Linked DNA regions of Homo sapiens: region 1 is linked to region 2. The links come from fine-mapping of genetic effects on gene expression. A gene starts in region 2. The other region holds a variant in brackets. All regions are shown on one strand. Distances are from middle to middle. Region 1 overlaps CARMAL (coronary artery disease region linked MFGE8 regulatory lncRNA). Region 2 holds the start of CARMAL (coronary artery disease region linked MFGE8 regulatory lncRNA).

What was found.
Region 1: its variant is fine-mapped to the expression of CARMAL in aorta (GTEx, PIP above 0.99).

The regions. Positions count from the first base shown.
Region 1 is chr15:89,062,825-89,078,876 of GRCh38, reverse strand. CARMAL (coronary artery disease region linked MFGE8 regulatory lncRNA) reads right to left here. Exons shown (of 4, transcript NR_183882.1): 2 at 8,686-8,786; 3 at 3,493-3,581. It also overlaps a transcript of ABHD2 not described here. Among named protein-coding and RNA genes, the nearest start is that of ABHD2, 18 kb to the left of the region's middle. RefSeq lists enhancers at 10,495-10,544, 10,595-10,644. The variant C/A (reference allele first, on the strand shown) is at 6,833.
Region 2 is chr15:89,034,495-89,050,546 of GRCh38, reverse strand. CARMAL (coronary artery disease region linked MFGE8 regulatory lncRNA) reads right to left here and starts at 9,549. Exons shown (of 4, transcript NR_183882.1): 1 at 9,247-9,549. It also overlaps a transcript of ABHD2 not described here. RefSeq lists an enhancer at 1,016-1,567.

The sequences.
Region 1 (16,052 bases), 28 kb before region 2:
CACCTGGAGTCCCAGTTATTCAGGAGGCTGAGACAGGAGAATTGCTTGAATCTGGGAGGCAGAGGTTGTAGTGAGCCAAGATCGTGCCACTGCACTCCAGCCTGGATGACAAGACTCTGTCTCACAAGAAAAAAAAAAAGAAAAAAAAAAAGCCTACATTGTCAGGGTGAGATTCAACAGAACTGTGTTTTAGGGGTAGTTCATCAGGAGGATATGTATTCTGAAAGATTTGGGACCCACAAAAAATTTCCTTGTAAGCAATTGTGAGGAAGGCCACCTGGGGAGATAGATGGCCTTCCGTTATCACATACTCATTCCTAACTAAGTACCCAGAGAAAAACATGGACAATAACGTTCATAATAGCGCCATTTGTAATAGCTTAAGGTTGTAAACAGTCCAAATATCCAAATGCAACGATCTGTTTAGGAGCAAAAGGAAGGCAGTTTTTGTGTGACTCAGTTTCCAAGCTTAATTTTTCCCTTTGACATAGTGAGTTTGGGGTCCCAAGGCTTTATTTTCTTTTCACAGTTATATGCCCTATCATGATGATTTATTATGAAGCCATATTTTAGTCCAATTAATCTGGAGGCAATGTTCAGAGAAAATTAGAAATAGGAGAGGTTGGAGCCAGGTAGAAGAGATAACAGGTTATTGCATTAGTTTCAATGTAAGTTGTTAAGGGCCTGAACTAGACAGTGGAAGTAAAAAGAAAAGAATAACAGTGATGTGAGCATAGATTCTTCAGGACTTCCCCACAGATTAAATATGGGGTGCAAGAAAGAGAGAAGGGTCAGAGATGATCCCAAGGTGGTTCTAATATGGGAGAGAAAGGTAAATTTACTTTAGATCTGTTGAGATTTTGGTGACACATATATTCAAGGGAAAGGGAAAATATGACATCATTACTAGAAAGGGAGCATTGGTAAGCAGGGGAGAGGCTGAGTTTTGTAGACAAGGGGATTTGGAGTCATAGTTTCTAGGTAACACGTTGCAAAAGCTGTCCACAGTACAAGATAATGGAAGTCATAGGCATAGACAAGTTTCAGAGAGAAAGAAAAGCAGACCAGGTTAACTTGAACTTGGGAGAATGAAACTTGGCAGGAGGAGAAAAACAGTGAAGGAGCTTGAGAAGTTACCACCACAAAGGGAGGAAGGGTTGACAGCTAACATTTATAAAACCCTTACTAAGAGACAAGCACGATTCTAAGAGTTTTAGATTTTTTTAAATATTTAATCCTCCCAATAACTCCACAGGGTGAATATGATTATGCCTGTTTTACAGATTAAGAAACTGAGGCCAGAGAGGTAAAATAATGTGCTTGAGGTCACAAAAGTGATATTAAGTAAACCCAAAATTAAAACCTTGGCAACATGAGCATGCATAATTCTCATTCTTAAGTATGTACCCAAAGAAACACACGGACAATAACATTCACAATAGCACCATTCGTAATAGCTTAAGATTGTAAACTGTCCAAATGTCCATCAACACTAGAATGGATAAACAGATTGTAGAACATTCATATTCAATGGAATACTATGCAGCATTGGGAATGAACAAATCATTACGATAAGCATGCCACCAGCATAAAGGTGAGTGAAAGAAGCCAGTCATCCAAGAAATGTATGCTATGATTTTATTTATATAAAGTTCAAAAAGAGGTAACACATGGCTGTGGTGTGAAAAAGTCACCTGACCTTTGTGAGGTGGTAGAGACTGGGAAAGGGCCTGAGAGGGGGTTCTTGGGTGCCAGTGATGCCCTGTTCCTGAGCTGGGTGGTGGTTACACAGGTGTGTTCACTTATGAAAATTCATCAAGCTGCTCACTTATGATTCATGTACTTTTCTGTGTGTAGGTAACAAACAAAAAGTACTAAAAAACAAGAAAGCAAAATAGAACCAGGGCATCTGATTTGAGGACCTACCCCCTTAACCACAGAGTGATCCAGAGAACAAGGGTCTTTTCTCCTCTTCCACAAAGAAAAATGTGGAAGGGGACCTTATAAAATTATAAATTTAAAAGAAATTGAAGAGATAGATCAACCAAATGGAATGTATGGGTCTTATTAGCATCCAAATGAAAACAAACCGTAGCTGGGTATTATGGATCATGCCTGTAATCCTAGCACTTTGGAAGGCTGGGGCAAGTGGATCACTTGAGCCCAGGAGTTTGAGACTGGCCTGGGCAACATGGTGAGACCTCATCTCTACAAAAATACAAAAAAGTAGCTGGACATGGTGGCATGCACCTGTAGTCCCAGCTACTTGGGAGGCTGAGGTGGGAAGATCACCTGAGCCCAGGAGGTAGAGGCTGCAATGGGTCATGATCGCACCACTGCACTCCAGCCTGGGTAACAGAGCAAGATCCTGTCTCAAAAAGAAACGAAACAAAACAAAACAAAAATTAAACTGTAAAAGACAATAACAAAACAATTGGGGAATGAATATTAATTATATTATGATTATGTTTTATAAAAAGTCCTTCTATTTCAGAGATACATATTGACATACTGATGGATGAAAGAATGTCTGGCATTTGCTCCACAAGAATGAGGATACGAGTGTTGAGATGAAAGATTGGCCATGGATTGATCATTGCTGAAGGTGGATGATATCTACCTGGACTTCACTGTACTTTGTCTATTTGTTTGAGTATTTTGTGAAATAAGAAGTTTTTGCAAAAGAGAAGAAGAAAACTAACGTTCAGTGTGTTCGCAAAGGAACTGATTCCCTTGGCTCCATATTTTTAAATTTGGATCTCCTTTGAGAGAGAAAGAGAGCAAGCACATGGGTCACAGGACTAAAGGAGAAAGGGGACGTGTGGGTGGAGCATGAGCTTGCGATGCCTGCTCCTGTGGTTTTCTCTCTTCCTCTACTCCTCCACTGGAACAGTTCTGGCAAAGGCCACTGTGACCCCCACTCACTGCTGCATCCAGCAGTTGGCTTTCAGTTCTTCTTTACTTGACATCTTGGTAGCTTGGGACTCTGGTGGCCAGGCCCCCTGCTTGGGAAGCACCTCTGGTTTTCCTTTGTCCATTTCACAGCCTGCCCCATGGACTCTTCTTCCTGTGCCTGATTCTTCAGTCCTGGGCCTGTCCTCAGCCTGCTGCTCTTCTTCCCCATACCCTCTTCCCTGGTGGTTCTGTCCTCTCCCAGCGCTTGAGTTGCTGCCAGGGCTGTCTTTCTAAACAGCAGTTCTCACCAACTGATTCCCTTGTGAAGACCCAGGAATAGCTTCCCATTGCCCAAATGATAACATTCAAACTCTTCCTGGAGGTACAGGAGGCCCTTCAGCATCTTTTTTCGCCTCCACTTCCTTTCTACCTTCCCTCTCTAGCCTTCCCTCCTTCTCCTCCCCTTCACACCCTCCGAGTCAGCCAGTGACATTATCAACACTTCTGGAATGCACCAGGCCGTTCCTTGCTCCCATACCTTTGACTCGATCTGGACTACTCACCCACACACTTCCCTACCTGGAAAACTCTACTCACCCTTTGAGACTCTGCTGCAAGCTCACTCCATCCATAAAGGCTTTCCTCATCTTCCTGTGGAGTTCATTCATCCATTCAATCATCCATTCCTAATAGATGTAGATGCAAAGACCTATGATAAGGCTGAGTGCTGGGGGCCAGAACCCACATCATTCACACTTTACCTCACAGTTCCTATCTCAGGTATTGCCTTACTTACATGATAGCTGCTCCCAAGCCCTACCCCTTGAGGCCAAGGAGGGTGACTTATTCCTCTTTGTACCCAAGTGATAGTAGGCACTAAAACACGCTTGTTCAATTGAATTGAAAGAGAAGAATTACCGAGAAAAGGCCTCTGGGTTTGGCCATTCAAACACTTTTGATAAACTTTGGGTGTCTCTGTACTAAAGTTTAGGGTTGGGGGTGAAGGGAATGAGGCTTTTTCTCCTGAGGGTTAAGGAGAAGCCAGGAATTGGTACCGCTGTAGGCCACTTGCTTGAGAAATGTTATCAGTGATATGAGGCAGGAAACAGGATGACAGCAAGATTGAGTGATGGCGGAGTTCAGCATATTTTAAAAGACAGATAGGGAAGAGCTAGTGGAAGTAGACTTGAGACGCTGGTGAGAGGCAATGTTCCAGAAGAAAATGACAAAGCAAGCTAGGTTCTTTTCTTTGTTGGGGAGGGGTTGGAGACAGGTGAACCTCATACAGGCCTGGGGGCAGCTCTTCCTCTAAGATGGAAGGGAAGGCTAGAAAGTGGAGGAGTCATAGCAGCCACTTCGGGTGCCTGCCTTATGCCAGACTCTTTCATTTCCATTACACTTAATCCTCAGTCTTCATTTTCAGATAAGGAGAATGGCTCAGTGTTTCAGTGGTTTTCCACCTGGTGACACATTAGAATCCCCTGAGGAATTTGTTAAAACAGTGCATCTGGGTCTCACTCCCAGCTTTCCTGATTTAATTTGATCTGGGAAAGAACACTGGCATCAGAATTGTTTAAGATCTTCAGGTGACTCTTTTTTTTTTTTTCAGATGGAGTTTCGCTCTTGCCCCCCAGGCTGGATGCAGTGTCATGATCTCTGCTCACTGCAACCTCCACCGCCCGGGTTCAAGCCATTCTTCTGCCTCAGCCTCCGGAGTAGCTGGGATTACAGGAGCACGCCATCACGCCCTGATAATTTTTGTGTATTTTTAGTAGAGACTGGGTTTCCCCATGTTGGTCAGGCTGGTCTTGAACTCTTGACCTTAGGTGATCCACCTACCTCGGCCTCCCAAAGTGCTGGGATTACAGGCGTGAGCCACCATGCCCGGCCCAGGTGACTCTTATGTACAGAGTGGAGAACCAATGTAAGAAATCTGTCAGAGGTGACCCGCTTGCTGGGATGGAATTTAATTCAGGTCCGCCAATCCCAAAGCCCTTTCTCTTTCTCCTAGCACTGTGATTCTGAGTGTGGGTCCCACAGCAGCAGCATCGGAAACACCTGGGAGCTTTTCTAACAAAAAGAGTAGTTCTAATCTACTAAGTAAAAAACGCTGGGGTGGGGCCAGCAATGCGGTTTAATAAGCCCTCCAGGTGGTTCAAGTTTGAGACCCACCGCTCTGAAATCTTGCTACTCAGTGTGATCCACAGATGTGTAGGATCGATATCATGATATTAGAAATGCAGAACCTCAGGTCCCCCAAGACCTGCTGAATCAGAATTTGTGTTTGGCAAGATCCCGAGATGCTTCGCATGGTTAGAGTTTGAGAAGTAGTGCGTGAGGCCACTAGTTTCCAAACCTGGCCAATGATCAGAATTAACACACTTTTTAAAAGAAAACTACAGATTCCCTGTAATCCCAGCACTTTGGGAGGCCGAGGAGGGTGGATCACCTGAGGTCAGGAGTTCGAGACCAGCCTGGCCAACATTGTGACATTCTGTCTCTACTAAAAATACAAAAAAATTACCAGGCATGGTCGTGGGCACCTGTAATCCTAGCTACTTGGGAGGCTGAGGCAGGAGAATCGCTTGAACCTAGGAGGCGGAAGTTGCAGTGAGCCAAGATCGTACCACTGCACTCCAGCCTGGGCAACAGAGCAAGACTGTCTCAAAAACTACAGATTCCCCAGATATTCCACACAAGTTTCTAGCTAATCAGGTCTGAGCTCACACCTAGGTCCCTTTTTTAAAGCTCCCCATAAATCTGATGATAGATTAAGTTTAGCATTGCTCCACAATGCTGCTCTCTGTAGAAGTGGGAATTTTCTGAGTATATTCTTTGTCCCAGGCCCCTCAAAAAGTGCTTTCCTCACAACTAGGCTTGCTAGATTTAGCAAATGAAAATACAGAATGCCTAGTTAAATTTGAATTTCAGATAAAGAGCAAATACTTTTTTAGTATAAGTATGTCTCAAATATTGTGTGGGCTATACTTATAAAATTATTTTAAGTAGTGAAAACAGGTTTAGCAAACTTACTAGTTAAAAATTAAATTTTATTAATATGATCAATTTAAATTTAGGAAAAGTTTCTAAAATTATGTATTGTTTATCTGAATTTCAAATTTAGCTGAGCATTTTGTATTTTACTTGGCAGCTCTACTCACAAAAGTACTGAAGTTCCAAGGAGAAGCTTGGCATAACCATATTGAGGGCAAGAAGAGGCAGAACTTGTCAGACATCAATAAGAAATGGATGAATGGGTGAATACCAAAGATATCATGTAGAGCTGCCTCAGTCAGCTTAGGCTAAGTTATCCTGCAGTAACAAATGACCTTCTCAACTCAGTGGCTAAATAAACCCCAAACTTAACTTTCCCTTCCCTCCCCTCCCCTCTCCTTTTCTTCCCTCCCCTTCCCCTTCCTCTCCCCCTCCTGCTCATCCTTCCCCTTCCCCTCCCCCTCCTGCTCATCCTTCCCCTTCCCCTTCTCCTTCCCCTCCTTTCCTCTTTTGAGACCGAGTCTTGCTCTGTCACCCAGGCTGGAGAGCAGTGGCACAATCTCAGCTAACTGCAACTTCTGCCTCCTGGGTTCAAGTGATTCTTGTGCCTCAGACTCCCGAGTAGCTGGGACTACAGGCCCCCACCACCATGCCTGGCTAATTTTTGTATTTTTAGTAGAGACAGGGTTTCGCCATGTTGGTCAGGCTGGTCTCAAAATCCTGACCTCAAGTGATGCACCTGCCTCGGTCTCCCAGAGTTCTGGGATTACAGGCATGAGCCACTGCACCTGGCCCAAACATTTGTTTCTTATTTGCATTACATATCCATCGAGGTCAGCTATCTTCCTCCTCATTCTGTGACCAAGGCTCATAGGAGGTTTCTAACGGAGACATTTTTGTTCTCCTCAAAAAGGAAAAAAATAAAAGTGTGACATGACTCTTA[C/A]AGCTTGGGTGACCAGCTATCCCAGTTTGCCCAGGACTGGGGGTTTCCTGGGACACAACACTTTAGTGTTAAAACCAGAATAGTCTTCGTCTTCAGGTAACTGAGGTTGGTCACCCTACAATAAAGCTTCTACCCGAAAGTGGCATGCACCACTTCCATTGGCCAAAAAAGTCATATGACCAAGTTTGTCATCAGGGAGTGAGCATTATAATCGTCCAGTATTGAGGGACCCTGTAGGATAAACATACCCAATAGCAATAACTTAAGCATACCCTTAGAATGACCCTGTATGGCAGACGCACCTGAGTGTGTGCTCTGAGCTAGGGAATCTGGGAGTGGCCAACCCAGAGATTCCTTCCTGTCTATGAGGAACATGTGAGCTCCACCCCACTCCCTTCCTGTCTGGTGGAATGTGGGCCGTATAAGGGATGGAGGCCATTTGTTTTAGGTTAAATGCAGGTTACCAGGTGAAGGTTGTTAAGGGGAGGGTTTTAAGTGAAAATACTGTATAAACTGCATGCTGTTTGCAAGTGGTTGCGTTTTTCCTGTCCAGTCTGCCACTGCTGGAGACTCTCCCCTGTATGTAAGCCCCAAATAAAACCCTATGTCTTTTTTTTTCTTTTGAGACGGGGTTTTGCTCTTGTTGCCCAGGCTGGAATGCAAAGGCACAATCTTGGCTCACTGCAACCTCCACCTCCCGGGTTCAAGCGGTTCTCCTGCCTCAGCCTCCCAAGTAGCTGGGATTATAGGCGCTTGACACCATGCCCAGCTAATTTTTTATATTTTTAGTAGAGATGGGGTTTCACCATGTTGGCCAGGCTGGTCTTGAACTCCTGACCTCAGGTGATCCACTCGCCTTGGCCTCCCAAAGTGCTGGGATCACAGGTGTGAGCCACCGTGCCCGGCCAAAACCCCATGTCTTATTTGCTACCTTTGGGTCTCTTCTTTGACCTCTTGAACCTGGTGCCTTCCCTACTGAGGTTAATTAGGGTTCAGCAAAACAGACCCATGGAGAGGAGCAATGAGTATTTAATAATGCAGTCTACCACAGAGAGCAAGCGGGGGGCACACTTCAGGAAGGCACACGCCTTCATTAGGAGGAAAATAGAAAAGGAAGGCCCTTCCGGACGGCAGAGCCAAAGGCCATGAAAGAGAATGGCATGAGGAACCCCCTTCCTCCAGGGGCAGGACTAAGACCTAATCTAGAAATATTCCCTATCCCCAGGATAGGGGGCCCCTTATGATGTCAGCCCAGTGGAATTTCAAGATGTCCATAGATCAATGATTACCCATATCTGCTGTCCACATGCTATTCTAGAGGCTTGCCCACTCCCTCATGCCTTGAACCTGTAAACACTGTGTAACCTTGACCAATATCATGTCTCTCATTCTTTCCTTTCTAAATAATGTTAGAAATGCAGAACCTCAGGCCTTCCCCCAGATCTGCTGAGTGTTTATTGAGATTACCCCATCCCTGTTCTTCTTTGGCCCATGGGGTATGTGGAGGGCTGATAACTAGACTTCTTAGTTCCGCATCTCCAGACCAAGAGGAAACCACATCCAGACCCAATGTAGGAACTACCATGAGATCTTGGACTTAATGTCTGATGCTTGTATTAGGGATGCAAATAATTGTGACAAGGAGGGATACTACGGTAGCTTGTGATACTATTTCAAAATATCTGTTGCCCCTCTAGGAGTGTTCCTTCCAGGTCGCTTTCTACATAGGGATTATATTTGTAACCCACTGAACTTAGGCTTAGCCATGTGACTTGCTTTGGCCAATAGAATGGGAGCAGAATGAACACATGTCACTTCTGAGGAGGAGTTTGAAGAAAAATCACATGGCTCACCATTGTCTCTTTTTCTTCTGCCTGGAGACTAGTAATGTTCCAGATAGAGCCTGCTCCTTCAGCCTGGATCCCAGAGCAGAGTTACAGCCAATCCACAACATCTGTATAGTATAAGTGAGAAATAACTGGAGTTATAAGCCACTGAGATTTTGGTGATGTTTGTTACCACAACACAACCAAGCCTACCCTTTCTTCATGATACAAGAGTAAATAGCAGGGCATGGTGGCTCATGCCTATAATCCCAGCACTTTGGGAGGTCGAGGCAGGTGGATCACTTGAGGCCAGGAGTTCAAGACTAACCTGGCCAACATGGTGAAACCCTGTCTCTACTAAAAATACAAAAATTAGCCATGCATGGTGGTACGCACCTGTAATCCCAGCTACTTGGGAGGCTGAGGCAGGAGAATCACTTGAACCTGGGAGGCAGAGGTTGCAGTAAGCTGAGATCATGCCACTGCACTCCAGCCTGGGTGACAGAGCAAGATTCCATCTCAAAAAAAAAAAAAAAAAAAAAAAGAGTAAATGAACAAGATGACAGGAGAATGCTTCTGTGTGATTCCATTTTTACAAAGTTTGCAAGCAGGCAAAACTAAACAATATATTATTTAGGAAAAAACCTGGAGTGGCAAAATTATAAAGAAAGCAAGAACATGAGTAACACAAAACTCACAAGGGTGGTTACTTTCGATCGAGGGTCAGAGAAACACAATTGGAGAGTTCTAAACTACTAAATTATATTTACTGTCTTGTGTGTGAATTTTACAACTTAAAGAAAAAGATTATGCCTGTAATCCCAGTTACTTGGAAGGCTGAAGTGGGAGAATCATTTGAGGCCAGGAGTTTGAGGCCAGCCTTGGAAAAATAGTGAGACCTCATCTTTAAAAAAATTTACTTAATTAGCCAGGCGTGGTTGTGCATGCCTATAGTTCCAGTTGCTCTAGAGACTGAGACAGGAGGATTGCTTGTGAGCCCAGGAGTTTGAGGCTGCAGTGAGCTATGATTGTGCCACTGTGCTCCAGCCTGGGCAACAGAGAGAGATCCTATCTCTTTAAAAAAAAAAAAAAAAAAGAAAAGAAAAGAAAAGAAAAAAAGAGCTTGCCAGACTGTTTTCCAAGTGACATACCAATATCTTCTGTCCATGTGCTGTTCTAGAAGCTTGCCTTTGGGAGGCTGAGGTGAGTGGATCACAAGGTCAGGAGTTCAAGACCAGCCTGGCCAATATGGTGAAACCCCATTTCTACTAAAAATACAAAAATTAGCAGGGTGTGGTGGCATGCGCCTGTAGTCCCAGCTACTCAGGAGGCTGAGGCAGGAGAATCACTTGAACCCGGGAGGTGGAGGTTGCAGTGAGCTAAGATCTAGTCACTGCACTCCAGCCTGGGCAACAGAGAGAGACTCCCTCTTGACAAAAAAAAAAAAAAAAAAAAAAAAAAAAAGAGGAAGCTTGCCCACTTCCTCATGCCTTGAACCTGGGAAAACTCTGTAACCTTGACCAATATCATATGATGCCATATGGTGCTCTGTGACTTCTGAGGCCAGGTCATAAAAATGCCATGCACTTGTGCTTTGCTTTCTCGGGACACCTTCCCTTGGACCCCAGTTACCAGCTAGTCTGATGAAGCCCAGCTAGCCCGTGTGGAGAGAACACATGGAGGGACCACGTGTAGGTGTTTGGGCTGAAAGCCCAGCTGAGGTTCCAGCCAAACCACCAGACATGTGGGTGAAGACGCCTCCGGATGACTCTAGCCCCCAATTGTTGAGTCATTCTCAGCTTTCAAGTCTTTCCAGCTGAGGTCTCAGACACCAGGGAGCAGAGGCTAGCCACCCCTGCTAGTTGCTGTCTAATTTCCTGACTCAAAGACTCTGTATGCAAAATAAAATGGTTGTTTTGTGCTACTTACATTAGGGGTGGTTTGTTATGTAGCAGTACATAACTGAAATCATTTATACATGCACACACACAGAGTTTGTGTGTGTGTGTGTGTGTGTGTGTGCACGCGCACATGTGTGTATGTATAAGAATTTCTCCCTTGGGCCCTATAAAAATAACATTAGATGGTTAGTTGCCCACAGAATGCTCTGTGGGAGACCCTGAGGGGTAGAAGTCCTGTAGGGGAGAAAAACAGAAAAAGACTATGAAGTCTAGGGTTTGGTCTTTGAGAAAGAAATTCTCCCTTCTTCTATGGTAAAGAAGAGGAAGGTGATTCAGTATTTGTGGCCAGAGAGTCCCACTAGACCGTTTCTTTCATGTGATCATTCACTGGTTTATTGAAGAATGAGTTCATTCATTACACAGTGGCTGATCATCTACAGGCATCAGGCTGTGAGTGGAGACCCCAATGTGTCATGGTACCTACCTCAAGGTTTGGACTCTCAGAGCCCAGAAGGAAAAGATGGAGAACAAGTGAATAGAGTTTGCTCCACAGAGTGTTAGGATAGTAGCAGGCAGGAGGTGCTGTAGAACTCCAGCCAGGTCTCACAGAAGACATCTGGGGTGTTCGAGAAAAGCTGAGTATTGGGAAAAAGGCTGAGGCAGGGCTTGCATGGCTGACATAATGTAAAACAGTCTTGGAACATGCCTGGGGTCCAGGGTCTAAAACCCCTCATGGCCTTTGGAACACCAAGCTCTGTGCCAAAGGGTGGAAACCTGCCCTGCCACACCACAATCTAAGCCCAGGGCATAAAACCCCTTGTGGCTTGGACAGAATCCAGGGCTCAGGGCTTAAAACTCCTTGTGGCCTCTGGAATGTGTCTAGACTTGCTGGCTTCTTGCTTCTAGCACTCCCAGGCTATTAGATCGATTGTAACTTAAACTAGAAGAACATGTTTCCCATTATCTCAAGTAGCAGAACATGTTCCATATGCTTCAAAGAAAATGCTAAACTGTCACAGTTGTAGATCATGTGCTTGATACACTGCTTTCTTTCAACCCCCACATCCTCACCACCTGCTTCTTTGTTTGATCACCAATAAATAGTGTGGGCTTCCAGAGCTCCGGGCCTTAGCAGCCTCCATACTAGCATTGGCCCCCTGATCCCACTTTATGCACTCTTGTCTTGTCTCATTCCTTTAACTCCACTGGACTTCGTAGCCCCCATGGCCTGGTGTTGGGTCTGATCACCCCAACATGGGGCCCCACCATCAATTCACATCTCCTTCCTCAACTGTATAGAATCTGGAGCAGAAAGAGCTGTGAATCTCAAGACTTTCTGCCGCTTGTTTATTCAGAGTCCAAACTCCCTAAGTATGGTGACCTCACAAGTATCCAGACACATTTTCCAGACTTCATGGCATCTGGAGAAAGGACGACTAACACAGCTGTGCCATGCCACTGTGCAATCAGGCACTCAGCTGCAGACACCAAAGGGAACTGTTTCACTACAGCTTGACTTGGCCTCTTGGCTGGCCCGTGGCTCTCTTGGCCTGCCGCAACAGGTACCCTTCACTGAAAAGGTATCTTGCTGAGCACAGGTTTCTGCCCAGCCCTCCTGCTGTGGCTTAAGACCTCCAGCACCTCCTATTTACTTGTGTGAGCAGGCAGCCATGTTCCTCCAGGCCTTGGGAAGGAAATATGATAGGAGAATGCCTTGGTGACAAGGATGCCCAAGGTATTGGGTTGAATTGTGTCCCCCCAAAATATATGTTCAAGTCCTAACCCCTGGTATCTGTGAATGTGACCTTATTTGGAAATAGGGTCTTTTGCAGATGTAATCAAGTTAAGATGAGGTCATACTGGATTAAGGTAGGCCCTAAGGCCAAAGACTGGTATCTTTATAAGAGAAAGGAGGAGGAGATTTGAATACGGAGAGATACACAGGGAAGAGGGCCAAGTGCAGATGCTGGAATGATGCATCTACAAACCAATACCACTAAGGATTGCCAGCAACTACCTGAAGAGAGGAGAGAGGCAAGAAAGGGATCCTCCTTCATACCCCTCAGAAGGAACCATGATTTTGAACTTCTAGCCTCCAGAACTGTGAGAGAACAAATTTCCGTTGTTTTAAGCCCCCAGGTTTGTGGTACTTTGTTACAGCAGATCTAGGAAACTCAGGGAAAAAATCCTAAATATTGCATAGCTTTCTCTTTCCAAAGAGAGGATATAGAGGAATGGTCACAAACACAAACATTTTAGTGATGCACACACCTGGTCCAAACTCTGAATCAATCATTCACTCGTTAATGTCTTTGGATGCATGATTGAACCCGAGTTTCCTTATGTGCAAAAGTAATAAAATGTACTCTTCAGATAATGTATGTAAAGTGCCAGGAACATAGCAGGTATTATGTAAATGGTAGATAATACCAGTATACTAGCCTCAGATTCCATTCTCTGCAATTACCAAGGAAGTCTTCCTTTTCCCTGGGATCCTGCATTAGGACAGAAGCAAGCAGAGTGCTGTTATTTCTATATCATGGGGGGCTTCTGGAAGGAAAGAGTTAGCACATGCTTGAAGATAACCAAAGCTAGAGTCTGTATAGACATAAGGAGGGTGAGGCAAAGTGGGGAAGCTAAAACTTCTCTGGAAAATTGTGGAAAAGCCTATATTCATTTGAAATACAAGGGATATTAGTCAATTATGCTGCATTTAGTGAAATGCCTCCTTCATGTGCATTAAAACAATGTAATGTCTAAGATCATTGTTTGTTCTTAGGAAGGGAGTGTTTGGCATTAATTTTACCCAAGAGTAAGCTACAGACTGTCAGGAAAAGAAACAAGAGGCCCTCAGGAGGAAGAGGAGGCATATCATACACCAGAGGTCAGGACCTCCCAAGTGGTGAGACTGGGGATGCCCAAGTCTGCCCTGGACAATTCTGTTGAAGCCTCCTAATATGGTGTTATTCTACACCCTTAATTAACATTTCTGGAAAATGTGCTATGGACAATGATTCTAAATGAGTTTGCCATAACGGGTGGATGGGAGTAGAGGCAGAGGTGGAGGGGTATTCTAAACTGATAACAACCTAGTAGGAAGGAGGATTTCCTTGAAGGAGGAGGTGGAGAATCACACCAATGATGGAGGAGGGGCTCTCTGAGCTGGAAATAACTGGATGCATTGAGTCTGGAAAGGAAGGCCAGGATCCAAGATGCCCATAGCACCCATGTTTTTTCTTTTATCCAGTAGACTTACATTTAGGCTGTATATTTTTGGGGAGGAATGTACATACTCATATGATAAAATTACAGAGAAAAGCATGGGAATGGTTAACACAAAAATCAGAATAGTGATCCCTCTCGGGGGATGAGAGGGCAATGAGATGGGGCAGGGCCTGCAGGTGCTTCTGAGGTTCTGAGAATACTCTATTTCTTCAGCTGGGAGTAGGATACAGACTGTTCATTTTGTTAGCATTCTTGAAGCTTAACATATACATTATATGCTCTCCTGTGTGATATGTTTCTCAATACAAATTGGAAAGATTGTTCATCACTGAAAAGTCTATTAAGCAAAAAAACTGTAAATAATCAAGTGTTCATTGTTAGCAATCTAGTTAAATAACTTATAAAATATCTGTTGAGCAATATACCAAATAGTCATTAAAAATAATAATTTAATTTTACTTTGTTGACATGAAATGATGTCTAGAATATATTAAGTGGAAAAAGCAGCCTAAAGAACTATTTGTACCAAGTGTCCATCAACAGATAAATATAAGAACACAATGTTGGCCGGGCGCGATAGCTCACTCCTGTAATCCCAGCACTTTGGGAGGCCGAGGTGGGCGGATCACAAGGTCAGGAGATCGAGACCATCCTGGCTAACACGGTGAAACCCCGTCTCTACTAAAAATACAAAAAATACAAAAAATTAGCCGGGCGTGGTAGCACATGTCTGTAGTCCCAGCTACTCAGGAGGCTGAGGCAGGAGAATCGCTTAAACCCGGGAGGCAGAGGTTGCAGTGAGCAGAGATCGCACCACTGCACTCCAGCCTGGGCAACAGAATGAGACTCCGTGTAAAAAAAAAAAAAAAAAAAGGACACAATGTTATATATAAATACATACAAAGAAAGGAAATTCTGACACATGCTATAACATGGATGAAGCTTAAAGGCATTATGCTAAATAAGCCAGACACAAGAGGGCAAATACTGTATGATTCTACTCAGATGAGATACCTAAAGTCACCAAATTATGCAGGGACAAAAAGCAGAATGGTGGTTGTCAGGGGCTTGGGGGAGGGGTAATGGGGGTTCTTATTTAATGCAGGGGTCCTCAACCCCTGGGCCATGGACTGGCACCTGTCCGTGGCCTGTTAAGAACCAGGCTGCACAGCTGCACAGCTGCACAGCAGAAGGTGGTTTCAGAGGTGGAACAGTTTCATGCTGAAAACATCCCCGCTACCCACCCTGTCCGTGGAAAAATTGTCTTCCATGAAACCAGTCTGGTGCCAAAAATGTTGGGGACCACTGACTTGATGGGTACAGAGTTTCAGTTGGAGAAGATGAAAAAGTTCTGGAAGTGAATCGTGGTGATAGATGTATAACAATGTGAATGTACTTAGTGCTATAGGACTGTACACCTAAACATGCTTAAAATGGTAAATTTTGTTATTTATGTTTTACAACAATAAAAAAACTGTATGTATAGTATGAATACTCCCCTTTCTCTTTGTGTTTATATGTGTGATGTGATGTGTGTGTGTGTGTCTGTGTGTGTGTGCATGTGTGAGAGAGAGAGAGAGAGGCAGAGATTAGTTGAGAACGCATATATAGGAAAAGAGTCTGGCAGGACTTATATTAATATGTCAGCAGTGGTTATCTTTTGGTAGTCAGATTACTGGTGATTTTTATTTACTTCCTTATACTTCATGCTTTTCTATATTCTAGGAGTTTTGGTTATGAGCAAATTTTTCATATGTAATAAGAAAAAATAAACCTGACCTCAAAAGAAAGGAATTCCATACTCTATCAAGAAGCAGCAATTTTTGGCCGGGCGTAGTGGCTCACACCTGTAATCCCAACACTTTAGGAGGCTGAGGCAGGGGGATCACTTGAGGCCAGCAGTTCAAGACCAGCCTGGCCAACATGGTAAAACCCCATCTCTACTAAAAATACAAAAATTAGCCGGGCATGGTGGCGTGCGCCTGTAGTCCTAGCTACTTGGATGGCTGAGGCACGAGAGTCACCTGAACCCAGGAGGTGGAGGTTGCAGTGAGCTGAGATCATGCCACTGCATTCCAGACTGGGTGACAGAGTGAGACTCTGTCTGAAAAAAAAAAAAAAAAAAGCAGCAGCAATTGTGACTGATTAAACAGACCTGACATACTCAAATGAGCAAGATAAAAGAAAATGAAAAGGAAGTTATTCTCCAATAAAAGTAATGCATTCAGTAAGCACCGGAAATCAATAAGGTGAGACAGGCCGGCTTTA
Region 2 (16,052 bases):
TGTCAGTTCACAAACTCAGGTGCACATGAAGTTTAACTTTGTGTTTTACAAATCAGCTAGTCTGCTAAACTGGGGGGAACTTAACCCCGGTTCTTGAAGATGTGTTCCCTGCTCCTCCCTGACCCATAGCCCCATGGTTGTTCTCTGGGTCTGGAATCTTAGGCTGTGTGCAAAGCATTTCTTCATTGGACACATGTCCACATGGTTGCTGCTGAGACATCCGCCATCCCTGCTCCATAGGCTCAGGCCCAGAGTCTCGGCAAATTCCATCTAAGTGACCCCCGCCCCATGACACTCTTCTGTGATCCTTCTCTGGGTTCATGTGTGTGGCTTCTGGGGTCTACTAGGGAGACAGGCCAGGTCTGCTCTGTTCCTGGGACCCATGACCTCTCCCTCCTCATAGCCCCTCTGCCCTGGGTGGATGAACCCTTTGTCTTTCATCTTTCTCCAAGACATTTTGTCTTCTCTATGAAATTCTTTCTACCTCAGGGAGTCTTAGACTAGACCTATGAAAATGTAGTCCAGGAAGGGAGTTAGTGTTTGGTGGGCAACTTTTATTTTCTGCTCTGTCACAGCCCTGCCCAGAGCCCACTACTTGCACATTTGGAGGAATAGAAAAGAGAAAAATACGGGGGAGGAGCCAAGATGGCCGAATAGGAACAGCTCCAGTCTACAGCTCCCAGCATGAGCGATGCAAAAGATGGGTGATTTCTGCATTTCCATCTGAGGTACCGGGTTCATCTCACTAGGGAGTGCCAGACAGTGGGCGCAGGTCAGTGGGTGCGTGCATCATGCGCCAGCCAAAGCAGGGCGAGGCATTGCCTTACTTGGGAAGTGCAAGGGGTCAGGGAGTTCCATTTCCTAGTCAAAGAAAAGGGTGACAGAAGCCACCTGGAAAATCGGGTCACTCCCACCTGAATACTGCGCTTTTCCGACGGGCTTAAAAAACGGCGCACGAGGAGATTATAACCCACACCTGGCTCAGAGGGTCCTACGCCCACGGAGTCTCACTGATTGCTAGCACAGCAGTCTGAGATCAAACTGCAAGGCGGCAGCGAGGCTGGGGGAGGGGCGCCCGCCATTGCCCAGGCTTCCTTAGGTAAACAAAGCAGCCAGGAAGCTCGAACAGGGTGGAGCCCACCACAGCTCAAGGAGGCCTGCCTGCCTCTGTAGGCTCCACCTCTGGGGGCAGGGCACAGACAAACAAAAAGACAGCAGTAACCTCTACAGACTTAAATGTCCCTGTCTGACAGCTTTGAAGAGAGCAGTGGTTCTCCCAGCATGCAGCTGGAGATCTGAGAACGGGCAGACTGCCTCCTCAAGTGGGTCCCTGATGCCTGACCTCCGGGCAGCCTAACTGGGAGGCACCCCCCAGCAGGGGCAGACTGACACCTCACACGGCCGGCCGGGTACTCCAACAGACCTGCAGCTGAGCGTCCTGTCTGTTAGAAGGAAAACTAACAAACAGAAAGGATATCCACACCAAAAACCCATCTGTACATCACCATCATCGAAGACCAAAAGTAGATAAAACCACAAAGATGGGGAAAAAACAGAGCAGAAAAAATGGAAACTCTAAAAAGCAGAGCGCCTCACCTCCTCCAAAGGAACGCAGTTCCTCACCAGCAACGGAACAAATGACTTTGACGAGCTGAGAGAAGGAGGCTTCAGACGATCAAATTACTCCGAGCTACGGGAGGACATTCAAACCAATGGCAAGGAAGTTGAAAACTTTGAAAAAAATTTAGAAGAATGTATAACTAGAATAACTAATACAGAGAAGTGCTTAAAGGAGCTGATGGAGCTGAAAACCAAGGCTCGAGAACTACGTGAAGAATGCAGAAGCCTCAGGAGCTGATGCGATCAACTGGAAGAAAGGGTATCAGTGATGGAAGATGAAATGAATGAAATGAAGAGAGAAGGGAAGTTTAGAGAAAAAAGAATAAAAAGAAATGAGCAAAGCCTCCAAGAAATATGCGACTATGTGAAAAAACCAAATCTACGTCTGATTGGTGTACCTGAAAGTGACGGGGAGAATGGAACCAAATTGGAAAACACTCTGCAGGATATTATCCAGGAGAACTTCCCCAATCTAGCAAGGCAGGCCAACGTTCAGATTCAGGAAATACAGAGAACGCCACAAAGATACTCCTCGAGAAGAGCAACTCCAAGACACATAATTGTCAGATTCACCAAAGTTGAAATGAAGGAAAAATGTTAAGGGCAGCCAGAGAGAAAGGTTGGGTTACCCTCAAAGGGAAGCCCATCAGACTAACAGCGGATCTCTCGGCAGAAACTCTACAAGCCAGAAGAGAGTGGGGGCCAATATTCAACATTCTTAAAGAAAAGAATTTTCAACCCAGAATTTCATATCCAGCCAAACTAAGCTTCATAAGTGAAGGAGAAATAAAATACTTTACAGACAAGCAAATGCTGAGAGATTTTCTCACCACCAGGCCTGCCCTAAAAGAGCTCCTGAAGGAAGCGCTAAACATGGAAAGGAACAACCGGTACCAGCTGCTGCAAAATCATGCCCAAAATGTAAAGACCATCGAGACTAGGAAGAAACTGCATGAACTATCGAGCAAAATAACCAGCTAACATCATAATGACAGGATCAAATTCACACATAACAATATTAACTTTAAATGTAAATGGACTAAATGCTCCAATTAAAAGACACAGACTGGCAAATTGGATAAAGAGTCAAGACCCATCAGTGTGCTGTATTCAGGAAACCCATCTCACATGCAGAGACACACATAGGCTCAAAATAAAAGTATGGAGGAAGATCTATCAAGCAAATGGAAAACAAAAAAAGGCAGGGGTTGCAATCCTAGGCTCTGATAAAACAGACTTTAAACCAACAAAGATCAAAAGAGACAAAGAAGGCCATTACATAATGGTAAAGGGATCAATTCAACAAGAAGAGCTGACTATCCTAAATATATATGCACCCAATACAGGAGCACCCAGATTCATAAAGCAAGTCCTGAGTGACCTACAAGGAGACTTAGACTCCCACACATTAATAATGGGAGACTTTAACACCCCACTGTCAACATTAGACAGATCAATGAGACAGAAAGTCAACAAGGATACCCAGGAATTGAACTCAGCTCTGCACCAACTGGACCTAATAGATATCTACAGAACTCTCCACCCCAAATCAACAGAATATACATTTTTTTCAGCACCACACCACACCTATTCCAAAATTGACCACATACTTGGAAGTAAAGCTCTCCTCAGCAAATGTAAAAGAACAGAAATTATAACAAACTATCTCTCAGACCACAGTGCAATCAAACTAGAACTCAGGATTAAGAATCTCACTTAAAACCGCTCAACTACATGGAAACTGAACAACCTGCTCTTGAATGACTACTGGGTACATAACGAAATGAAGGCAGAAATAAAGATGTTCTTTGAAACCAACGAGAACAAAGACACAACATACCAGAATCTCTGGGACGCATTCAAAGCAGTGTGTAGAGGGAAATTTATAGCACTAAATGCCCACAAGAGAAAGCAGGAAAGATCCAAAATTGAAACCCTAACATCACAATTAAAAGAACTAGAAAAGCAAGAGCAAACACATTCAAAAGCTAGCAGAAGGCAAGAAATAACTAAAATCAGAGCAGAACTGAAGGAAATAGAGACACAAAAAACCCTTCAAAAATTAATGAATCCAGGAGCTGGTTTTTTGAAAGGATCAACAAAATTGATAAACCGCTAGCAAGACTAATAAGAAAAAAAGAGAGAAGAATCAAATAGATGCAATAAAAAATGATAAAGGGGATATCACCACCGATCCCACAGAACTACAAACTACCATCAGAGAATACTACAAACACCTCTACGCAAATAAAACTAGAAAATCTAGAAGAAATGGATAAATTCCTCGACACATACACTCTCCCAAGACTAAACCAGGAAGAAGTTGAATCTCTGAATAGACCAATAACAGGAGCTGAAATTGTGGCAATAATCAATAGCTTACCAACCAAAAAGAGTCCAGGACCAGATGGATTCACAGCCAAATTCTACCAGAGGTACAAGGAGGAACTGGTACCATTCCTTCTGAAACTATTCCAATCAATAGAAAAAGAGGGAATCCTCCCTAACTCATTTTATGAGGCCAGCATCATCCTGATACCAAAGCCGGGCAGAGACACAACCAAAAAAGAGAATTTTAGACCAATATCCTTGATGAACATCGATGCAAAAATCCTCAGTAAAATACTGGCAAACCAAATCCAGCAGCACATCAAAAAGCTTATCCACCATGATCAAGTGGACTTCATCCCTGGGATGCAAGGCTGGTTCAATATACGCAAATCAATAAACGTAATCCAGCACATAAACAGAACCAAAGACAAAAACCACATGATTATCTCAATAGATGCAGAAAAGGCCTTTGACAAAATTCAACAAATCTTCATGCTAAAAACTCTCAATAAATTAGGTACTGATGGGACGTATTTCAAAATAATAAGAGCTATCTATGACAAACCCACAGCCAATATCATACTGAATGGGCAAAAACTGGAAGCATTTCCTTTGAAAACTGGCACAAGACAGGGATGCCCTCTCTCACCACTCCTATTCAACATAGTGTTGGAAGTTCTGGCCAGGGCAATCAGGCAGGAGAAGGAAATAAAGGGTATTCAATTAGGAAAAGAGGAAGTCAAATTGTCGCTGTTTGCAGGTGACATGATTGTATATCTAGAAAACCCCATTGTCTCAGCCCAAAATCTCCTTAAGCTGATAAGCAACTTCAGCAAAGTCTCAGGATACAAAATCAATGTACAAAAATCACAAGCATTCTCATACACCAACAACAGACAGAGAGCCAAATCATGAGTGAACTCCCATTCACAATTGCTTCAAAGAGAATAAAATACCTAGGAATACAACTTACAAGGGATGTGAAGGACCTCTTCAAGGAGAACTACAAACCACTGCTCAAGGAAATAAAAGAGGATACAAACAAATGGAAGAACACTCCATGCTCATGAGTAGGAAGAATCAATATTGTGAAAATGGCCATACTGCCCAAGGTAATTTATAGATTCAATGCCATCCCCATCAAGCTACCAATGACTTTCTTCACAGAATTGGAAAAAACTAAAGTTCATATGGAACCAAAAAAGAGCCTGCATCGCCAAGTCAATCCTAAGCCAAAAGAACAAAGCTGGAGGCGTCACACTACCTGACTTCAAACTATACTACAAGGCTACAGTAACCAAAACAGCATGGTACTGGTACCAAAACAGAGATATAGATCAATGGAACAGAACAGAGCCCTCAGAAATAACGCCGCATATCTACAACTATCTGATCTTTGACAAACCTGAGAAAAACAAGCAATGGGGAAAGGATTCCCTATTTAATAAATGGTGCTGGGAAAACGGGCTAGCCATATGTAGAAAGCTGAAACTGCATCCCTTCCTTACACCTTATACAAAAATCAATTCAAGGTGGATTAAAGACTTAAACGTTAGACCTAAAACCATAAAAACCCTAGAAGAAAACCTAGGCTTTACCATTCAGGACATAGGCATGGGCAAGGACTTCATGTCTAAAACACCAAAAGCAATGGCAACAAAAGCCAAAATTGACAAATGGGATCTAATTAAACTAAAGAGCTTCTGAACAGCAAAAGAAACTACCATCAGAGTGAACAGGCAACCTACAAAATGGGAGGAAATTTTCACAACCTACTCATCTGACAAGGGGCTAATATCCAGAATCTACAATGAACTCAAACAAATTTACAAGAAAAAAACAAACAACCCCATCAAAAAGTGGGCGAAGGACGTGAACAGACACTTCTCAAAAGAAGACATTTATGCAGCCAAAAAACACATGAAAAAATGCTCACCATCACTGGCCATCAGAGAAATGCAAATCAAAACCACAATGAGATACCATCTCACACCAGTTAGAATGGCAATCATTAAAAAGTCAGGAAACAACAGGTGCTGGAGAGGATGTGGAGAAATAGGAACACTTTTACACTGTTGGTGGGACTGTAAACTAGTTCAACCATTGTGGAATTCAGTGTGGCGATTCCTCAGGGCTCTAGAACTAGAAATACCATTTGACCCAGCCATCCCATTACTGGGTATATACCCAAAGGACTATAAATCATGCTGCTATAAAGACACATGCACACCTATGTTTATTGCGGCATTATTCACAATAGCAAAGACTTGGAACCTACCCAGATGTCCAACAATGATAGACTGGATTAAGAAAATGTGGCACATATACACCATGGAATACCATGCAACTATAAAAAATGATGAGTTCATGTCCTTTGTAGGGACATGGATGAAACTGGAAATCATCACTCTCAGTAAACTATCGCAAGAACAAAAAACCAAACTCTGCATATTCTCACTCATAGGTGGGAATTGAACAATGAGAACACATGGACACAGGAAGGGGAACATCACACTCTGGGGCCTGTTGTGGGTTGGGGGAAGTGGGGAGGGATAGCATTGGGAGATATACCTAATGCTAGATGACGAGTTAGTGGGTGCAGCACACCAGCATGGCACATGTATACATATGTAACTAACCTGCACATTGTGCACATGTACCCTAAAACTTAAAGTATAATAATAATAAAAAATTAAAAAAAGGAAAAAAAAAGAAAAGAGAAAAATACAAAGAGGAGGGGAACAAAACTCATAGATGAATATATCAAAATATTTATCCCAAGCTGATATACCTTGTAGATTGCCTTCAACTCTAGATCTCCTCCTCCTCCTTCTTCTTCTCCTCTTCCTCCTCCTCCTTCTCCCCCTCCTCCTTCTCCCTCCTCTTCCTCCTCCTCTCCTCCTCCTCCCCCTCCTCCTTCTCCTCCTCCCTCTCCTCCTCCTCCTTCTCCTTCCTCCTCCTCCTCCTCCTTCCGCCTCCTCGTCTCCTCCTCCTCTCCTCCTCCTTCTTCCTCTTCTTCTTTTCTTCCTCTTCCTCTCCTCCTCCTTCCTCTTTCCCTTCCCCTCCTCCCTCCTCTTCCTCCTTCCTCTTTCTTTTCCTCCCCCTCCCCCTTCTTCCTCTCCTTCTCCTTCTCCTTCTCCTCCTCCTCCTTCTTCTTCTTCTTTAAAAAAGAGATAGGGTCTTGATCTGTTGCCCAGGCTGAAGTGCAGTGGCACAAAGATAGCTCACCCTAACCTTGAATTCCTGGGCTAAAGTAATCCTCCCACCTCAGCCTCCTCAGTAGCTGGGACTACAGGCATGAGCCACCATGCCCAGCCCAAACCCCAGCTCTTCTGCTGAAAGCAAACTTGCCCCCCTAGGGTGCTAGAAGAGCTCAGGCAGGGTTGGCTGCCACCTTCTGAGGGACTGTATGTCTTACTTCTGTCTGTCTTCTCCACAGCCCTGTTGGTTACCTTTTCCTAGCTACTCCCATGGTTTTGGGAAGAACATTTGTCAGAATGGTGAAGGGAGGGCCCCTGGGGCTCATCCCAGTGGTCAGCATAGGCATCAAAGCAGATTACGGCAAGCCGTGGAATATGTACTAGTGGAGGAAACAAATGGTGCTGGGCAAATTAAGAAAGAAGGTATAGGCCGGGCGCCGTGGCTTATGCCTGTAATACCAGCACTTTGGGAAGTTGAGGCGGGTGGATCACTTGAGGCCAGGAGCTTGAGGCCAGCCTGGCCAACACAGTGAAACCTTACCTCTACTAAAAATGCAAAAAAAGAAAAAAAGAAAAAAAAAATTAGCCAGGCTTTGTGGCACACACCTGTAGTCCCAGCTACTTGGGAGGCTGAGGCATGAGAGTCACTTGAACCCGGGAGGCAGAGGCTAGAGTGAGCCAAGATCACCCCACTGTACTCCAGTCTGGGCGACAGAGCAAGACTCTGTCTCGAAAAAGAAAAGAAAAAACAAAAAGTCTCCAAAATAAATAAATAAATAAATAAATAAATAAATAAATAAATAAATAAGAAAGAAAGAAAGAAAAGGAAATAAAAAAGAAAGAGAGAAGGTATAAATTTCCAGGTGGGAAGTAACCAGGACAGGAAATCTTCATGGAGGAGGTGGCACTCGGTGTAAGGATTTAGAAGAGATAAGACGGAGGGAAGGCAGGAATGATGGTCTAATTGGGGAGCAGAGAGGGTGTACTTGGAGCATGTGCTTCAATAAGAAAAGTGTCTCAGTTTTTAAGCTAATGTTGACCTGGTAAAAAGATGTTTGAGGGAGTAGGGTAAAAGCAAGACTATAGTGTTATGGAGAAGGTGGCTGAAATCCTCAATAGTGTCACTGAGTGGTCCTAAGCAGGCTCTGGATCCAGGCTGCCAGGGTTCAAATCCTGGCTATGCTATGCAGCTGCTGCATGTTCTTCAGCAGGTTACAAAACCCCTCTGTCCCTTGAGTCCTCAGCTATGATGTGGAGACAATAATGTACTGGTGTCCAAAAGTGGCTATGAGGATAAGTTTAGAAGTTTAGAAGTATAAAGGGCTTAGATGAGTGCTCGGCACATAGTAATGCTCACTGTATGTTTAGCAATAATGGTGATGGTGATGGATAAGATAAAGATGGACGCCCCTCCCAACCAAACACCCGGGTGACCTCTGGTTCCGACCCCCTCCAGGCCCTCCTGCCCTGATGTTTGACCTCAGCTATGCCTCTGATTCCAGGTAGGGGAAGATGCTTATGCCCTTCCAGGTCTCAGGTTGCTTATTCTGTGACCATCTGACCCCTAGCAATGCTGTCTCAGCCCCTCCAGGCCAGGTCTGGGTGCCGTGGGCCCTGCTGATGAGGTGGTGTGTCATGCCTGGTCAGCAGGGCAGACCGAGGGGCAGAGCTGCTTTCCCCAGCAGGGGAATAGAGTTGCGCCTTGCCTCAACTCTGCCTCTCACTGGCCTCAGTTTTCTTCTTAGTGGACTCCTAGGACATCTACCCAGATGCCCGGACAGAGGCACAGGCTTGGCTCAGGTCTTCCAGCCAATGAATAGCCAAGGCCGGATTCACACTAGGACAGTCTGGCTTTTAACTGCTGCACTAAGAGTCACTGCAGTAGATCCAGACATCAAGGAAGGTTCCCAGAGTCCTGGTGCCTCTGTGCCCTTAGGCGGGTGAATACTGATGGGTGGAGACAGAATTGTTACAAATATATAATAAATAAGTTATAGTAAAGCAGAATTCAATCCGAAACTCAGAAGAAAAGCAGTCCCCTCCATTCTATTGCAAACCACCTCTAAACTTCGTGGCTTAAAACCACAAAACTCACATTTGCTCATGATTCTGCAACGTGGGCAGAGCTCGGCAGCGGCAGTTCATCTCTGTTCCACATGGCATCAGCTGAGGCTGCTCCACCGAGGCTGCAGGATCCAGTTCCAGAATGGCACACTCACGTCACTGGAAGTTGATGCTGGCTGGCAGCCAGGGCCTCCTCTTGGCCTCCTTACACAGTTAAGTTAAACTTCTGCAGCACAATAGTTGGGTTCCAAGTGGGAGCATCCCAGGAGGAAGCATCCCAGGCCAGGGGTAGGCACTTTTCAAGCCTCTGCTGGCATCTTCTTGCTAGAGCCCTATTGGCCAAAGCTTGTCAGCTGACCAAGCCCAGAGTCAGTGTGGGAGGAGACTACACACAGTGGTGAATACTGGGAGCTGTGGTTTACCGAAGTGTCTGTCTGTCTGAACTTCTTTTTCCTAAGGCTCGCTTTGGTGCTCCTCACATTCTCCCATCAGCCTCCTCTGAAACCTGGTTCCATCCAGTATCCTCTCTCTCACCTCGTCCATTGCTCCTTCTTCAACGAATCCCTCCTTTCAGCCAACAGACCCACTCAAGCCACAGCTATCCCCGAACAGCTCCGTTCAGCCCTGCGTCTCCCTCAGGGTGCCGTCCTGTCTCCCTCCATTCCTTTGCTTCCAAAACCCTTCAAATAGCTGCTGAATGCTGGAAGCAGAAAAAGTTCCCTAAAGCCAATTTGCTACATTTATGAAATATTCTAGGCTGGGCACTGTGTCTCACGCCTGTAATCCCAACACTTTGGGAGGCCAAGGCGGGCGGATCACAAGGTCAAGAGATCAAGACCACCCTGACCAACATGGTGAAACCCCGCCTCTCCTAAAAATACAAAAATTATCTGGGTGTGGTGGCACGCACCTGTAGTCCCAGCTTCTTGGGAGGCTGAGGCAGGAGAATCGCTTGAATCCAGGAGGCAGAGGTTGTAGTGAGCCAAGATCGTGCCACTGCACTCCAGCCCGGCAACAGAGCCAGACTCTGCCTCAAAAAAAAAAAAAAAAAAAAAGTGAAATATTCTGATTTGTCCATTCTAAAGAATTTTTTCTTTAATGTTTTCAATGAATACGAATATATACTGTTAATGAATGCATTAGTAAATATATTCAAGAATATACTCTTATGAATATAAATAAAAATCTATTGATAAGAAGTCTAAACTACTCGATGACTCTTAGGTTCCAGCAAGCCCATAGTCTGTGAATAGATTCACAAGTGGAATATATTCATATTCACTGAGAAAAACTTTCTTCAAAATTTTTGACAAATTTGCCAAAATTGGCACACATCTCTTAATTAAAAAATTTCATCCCTCCTTTCTTCCATCCATTCATCCATCCAACGGATATTTATTTGAATGCCATGACATGCTCAGCACTGGGGCATAGTGTGGTTGAACACAGACCCAGCCCCGGCCCTCATAGAGTTTACAGTCTAGTAGGGGAGACAGTTACTCATTAAGTGATCATTTCAAACAAACCCTGAAACTGGCCGGGTGCCATGACTCATGCCTGTAATCCCAGCACTTTTGGAGGCCAAGATGAGAGGATCACTTGAGGTCAGGAGTTCGAGACCAGCCTGGCCAACACGGTGAAACCCCGTCTCTACTAAAAATACAAAAATCAGCTGGGTGTGGTGGCGGGTGCCTGTAATCCCAGCTACTCCGGAGGCTGAGGCAGGAAAACTGCTTGAACCCAGGAGGTGGAAGTTGCAGCGAGCTGAGATCGCGCCACTGCACTCCAGCCTGGGTGACAGAGTGAGACTCTGTCTCAATTAAAAAAAAAAAAAGAACACTGAAATTGCAATCTTGACCAGTGCTACCATACCTTTTCCAGCTCATGACACGCCCTTTGGCACGCACTGCTTTGGAATTTTGATCATACTGCTCCCTTTGCTGGCAATGCTCTTTCCCGCTTTCCCTGCTTGGCATATGCAGCTTAATTTTAAGACCCCAGTCAACAGCGCTCACTGTGGCTCTGGCTCCTATCCCCAGGAAAGATGAACTGCTCCATTATTTATGTTCTAGCAGCACTTGGCATAAACTTCTAGCAGTGAACATATCAAACCATAATATATTATATCTGTGTCTCTTCTATTAGATCGTAAGTGCAATAGGGTCAAGAATTCTGTCTTCAGAGGCTTGGGTGGAGTGAGTGTGCATGTTTAAAAAGAGAGAAGTTTACAAAAATGTTTAAAAAGAAAGAAGTCGGGGGGTGGGGGGCGGGTGGGCAGGCGCAGTGGCTCACGCCTGTAATCCCAGCACTTTGGGAGGCAGAGGGGGCCAGATAGCTTGAGCTGAGTTTAAGACCAGCCTGGGCAACATGGTGAAATCCCATCTCTACAAAAACATACAAAAAAAAAAAAAAAAAATTAGCTGGCTGTGATGGCAAGCACCTGTAGTCCCAGCTACTCAGGAAGCAAAGGTGGGAGGATTGCTTGAGCCTGGGAGGTCGAGGCTGCAGTGAGCTGTGATCGCCCTTTGCACTCCAGCCTGGGAGACAGAGTGAGACCCTGCCTCAGAAAAAAAGGTATCCTTACCTGACATGGAAAAATTCCTCTGGGCACCCATTAGGGGACAGACACCTCCATTTACACTCATCCTTTTAAAGCCTCTTATAATTTGACCCACAATATAGACATCAAAAATAAGCTTGAGGGAGGCCCAGCAGCCATGGTGGCAGACAGGGCTGGCAGGTAAGGCTCTGGTGGCCACTGACTTGAGGGAGAGCAGCCTGCTGACCTCAGCCAGGGCTGCAGCAGTGGGGCCAGTGCCAGACAAGGTGCTCCAAGGGGCTAGGACCAAGTGCAGTCATCTTTGCCTCTCTGGCATCTAGCAGCATTGACTAGATGCTCACACACTCGAGAAATACGTGTTAAGTGAACGGTCCCTGTGACAATCAAGCAGACTTTTTTCTTTCCGATGACACACCTCCTCTGGCCGCCACTGTCACCCTGCAGAGCAGAATCACTCTTCTGCGGGGAAGCTGGAAGGGAAACAGGCCAGGACAGCCTGGGTGAAGCAGGACTGTGTTTTGATGAGCTGAGCAAGCCTGGGTGCGGGACCCTGAGGTTACGTAGCAGACCAGGGACCCCAAGGAAGACTGCATGGATTTTGTGGGCAAAATCAGTCCATTTCAGAAATAGTTGGTGGTTTAATTGAGCCTGTGGACCAACTTGCAAAAGCAGCAGAAAATGAGAAGAGGAAGGTAGTTGGTGCTTGGAACTTGCTCCAATTTATGGCAAAACACAGAGAAGCCCAACAGCAACAACTTCTAGCACAAACAGCAGAAGAGAAAATGTGGCTAAAAAGGTGGTGGATTGAATATGAAGCCTCGTGGAAAGTAGATGCACAGAAGGAAACACATTTATTGGCCAGTTTATTTTCAGATGTGACTAACGACCTGAGTATGTCGTGTGAGATGCAGTGTGAGGAATACAGCCTTTCTGAAGGTGATAATACAAATCTGGAGGGGGCTTGTTTTAAACTTTAGCGCATATCTGCTGGGGAACATTGGTGCCATGTAGCCGGCAGCCACGGCAGTACAGGTACTCATCTCTGGCATTCTTAGTCTGAACTGAACAGTCTGTAAACGTTGATCTTTTTGTTTTTTTGTTTTTGTTTTTGTTTTTTTTCTGTAAATTCACAAAGACTTGGAAGGAAGAGCAATAAATTATTGTTTTCCAAACAAATAAACTTGAGAGAAAAATAATCCTTTTTCTCTCTTTTTTTTTTGAGACGGAGTCTCGCTCTGTCGCCCAGGTTGGAGTGCAATGGCGCAATCTTGGCTCAGTGCAACCTCTGCCTCCCGAGTTCAAGTGATTCTCCTGCCTCAGCCTCCTGAGTAGCTGGGATTACAGGTGCCCACCACTATGCCCGGCTAATTTTTGTATTTTTAGTAGAGATGGGGTTTCACCATGTTAGGCTGGTCTCGAACTCCTGACCTCAGGTGATCCGCCTGCCTCGGCCTCCCAAAGTGCTGGGATTACATGCATGAGCCACTGTGCCCGGCTGAGAGAAAAATAATACTTTTATGTATATGCTTTTATAGGCACAAGATATCTCTAGAAATATCCATGAGGAACTCTCATATTTCATCAGATCTAAGATGCCCTCAATTATAAGATATACCATTGTTGCATGCACAAGAAAGAAAAAAGACTGCTAAACGGAGAGGCAAAAGATTCAGAATAGCCAACACAATGTTGAAGAAGAAGAAGAAGTCGGAGGACTGATACTACCCAACTTCAAGGCTTACTATAAAGCCACGGTAATCAAGAGACTGTGATATTGATAAAAGAATAGGCAAATAGATGAATAGAACAGAATAGAGAGCCCAGAAACAGACCCACATAGCTATACTCAACTGATGTTTGATAAAGGAGCAAGGATAATACAATGGAAAAAAAGACAGTATTTTCAACAAATGGTCCTGGAACAACTGGACATCCATATGCAAATAAAAAAAAAAAGAATTCAGACACAGACCTTGCACCCTTCATAAAAATGAAGTCGAAATGGCTCACAGACCTATATGTAAAGCACTAAACTATAAAACTTCTAGAAGACAACAAAGGAGGAAATCTGGATGATGTTGCGTATGGACATGACTTTTTTGATGCAACACCACAGGCATTAACCATGAAAGAAATCATTGATAAATTGGACTTCAATAAATTAGAGAAACTTCTGCTCTGTGAAAAACACTGTCAAGAGAATTAGAAGACAAGCCACCAACTGGGAAAAAGTATTTGGAAAAGACACCTGATAAAAGATTGTTATCCAAAATATACAAAGAACTGTTAAAGCTCAACAATAAGAAAATGAACAACCCAGCTGAAAAATGGACAAGCGACTGGAACAGACACCTCACCAAAGATTTTACAAATGAAGTAAGCATGTGAAAAGATGCTCCACATCATGTGTCATCAGGGAACTTCAAATTAGATCAACAATGCGAGGACCCAAACACGTGTGTTGCTCCACATCCTCACCAGCATTTAGTGTTGTCAGTGTTCTGGATTTGGGTCATCTCATTGAATCAGTGTGAATGAATGAACTCTCATTCATTGCTGATGGGAACGCAAAATGCTACAGGTTCTTCAGGCTCTTTGGAAGACAATTTGATGGTTTCTTTTCTTTTTTTTTTTTTTTTTTTTTGAGACAGGGGCTTGCCCTGTCACCCAGGCTGGAGTGCAGTGGCAAGATCACGGCTAACTGCAGTCTCTAACTCCTGGGCTCAAACAATCCTCCCACCTCAGCCTCCTGAATAGCTGGGACTACAGGCATGTGCTACCATACCAGGCTAATTTCTAAAACAAAAATTTTGTAGAGACAGAGTCTTCCTATGTTGCCCAGGCTGGTCTCAGACTCCTGGACTCGTGATCTTCCTACCTTGGACTTCCAAAGTGTTGAGATTGTAGGCATGAGTCACCACTCCCAGCCTAATTTGGCGGTTTCTTACAAAACTAAATATACTTTTACCATATGAACTAGCAATTGTGCTGCTTGGTATTGACCCAAATGAATTAAAAACTGGTGTCCACACAGAAATCTGCCCATGGATGTTTATAATCAGCTTTATTTATAATCATCAAAATGTGGAAGCAAGCAAGATGTCCTTCAGTAGGTGAATGTGTAAATAAACTATAGGTACTTCCAGACAATGGAATATTATTCAGCACTAAAAGAAATGGGCTTTGGGTGATAATAATGTGTCAATGTAGGTTCATTGATTATAACAAATTTACCTCTCTGTTGCAGAATGTTGATAGTGGGGGAGGCTGTGTATGTGTAGGGCCAGGGAGTGTATGAGAACGCTCTGTACTTCTAAATTTTGCTGTGAACTAAAACTGCTCTAAAAGATAAAGTCTATTTAAAAAAAGACTGCCAGTTAACTATATGACATGATGCCATAACGACAGCCTTGCATGACACATGATTGATCACACCAGCCCTTCATGGCTTTGAAATTTCTTGCATCTATTCTGAGAGATCTGGCAATTTCCCCAGTCTTAAATTGCATTGTCTGGCATGAATTTGAGTAGGTAACATTCCTTTTTCTCTTTTGGGTATCTTCCACTTTGGGGTCCTCAAATGGACCAAGCATGCATCAGCAGCATCAATATCACCAGAGGGCTTGTTAGAAACGTGGAATCTGAGGCCAGACGCCGTGGCTCACACCTGTAATCCCAGCACTTTGGGAGGCGGAGGTGGGCAGATCATGAGGTCAGGAGTTCGAGACCAGCCTGGCCAACATGGTGAAACCCTGTCTCTACTAAAAGTACAAAAAATTAGCCAGGCGTGGGGGTATGTGCCTGTAGTCCCAGCTACTTGGGAAGCTGAGGCAGGAGAATCGCTTGAACCCGGGAGGCTGAGGTTGCAGTTAGCAGAGATCGCACCATTGCACTCCAGCCTGGGTGACAGAGCAAGACTCCATCTCAAAAAAAAAAAAAAAAAAAAAAAAAGAAATGTGGAATCTGACCCATGCCAGACTTAGTGAATCAAAATCTGTGTTTTATCCAGATCCCAGCGGATTTGTGTGCACATTGCAGTCAGAGAGGTACTGCTGCTGAAAACCTCTCAATGGTTGCTCTGCAAGAAAATATGGAATGGAAATCATTACTCTAACAATTCATAAATTCGCTTCACTAATATCAATTTTGCACCTCACTGTTGTTTCTGTAACTTTCTGCATCCACAGTGACCTTTCATTTAAATGCTGATAGTACCGTCTTTTTGAAGATATTTTAAATAGCAAGTAAAGTCAGCGCATGTAGCGTCAACAATGCAC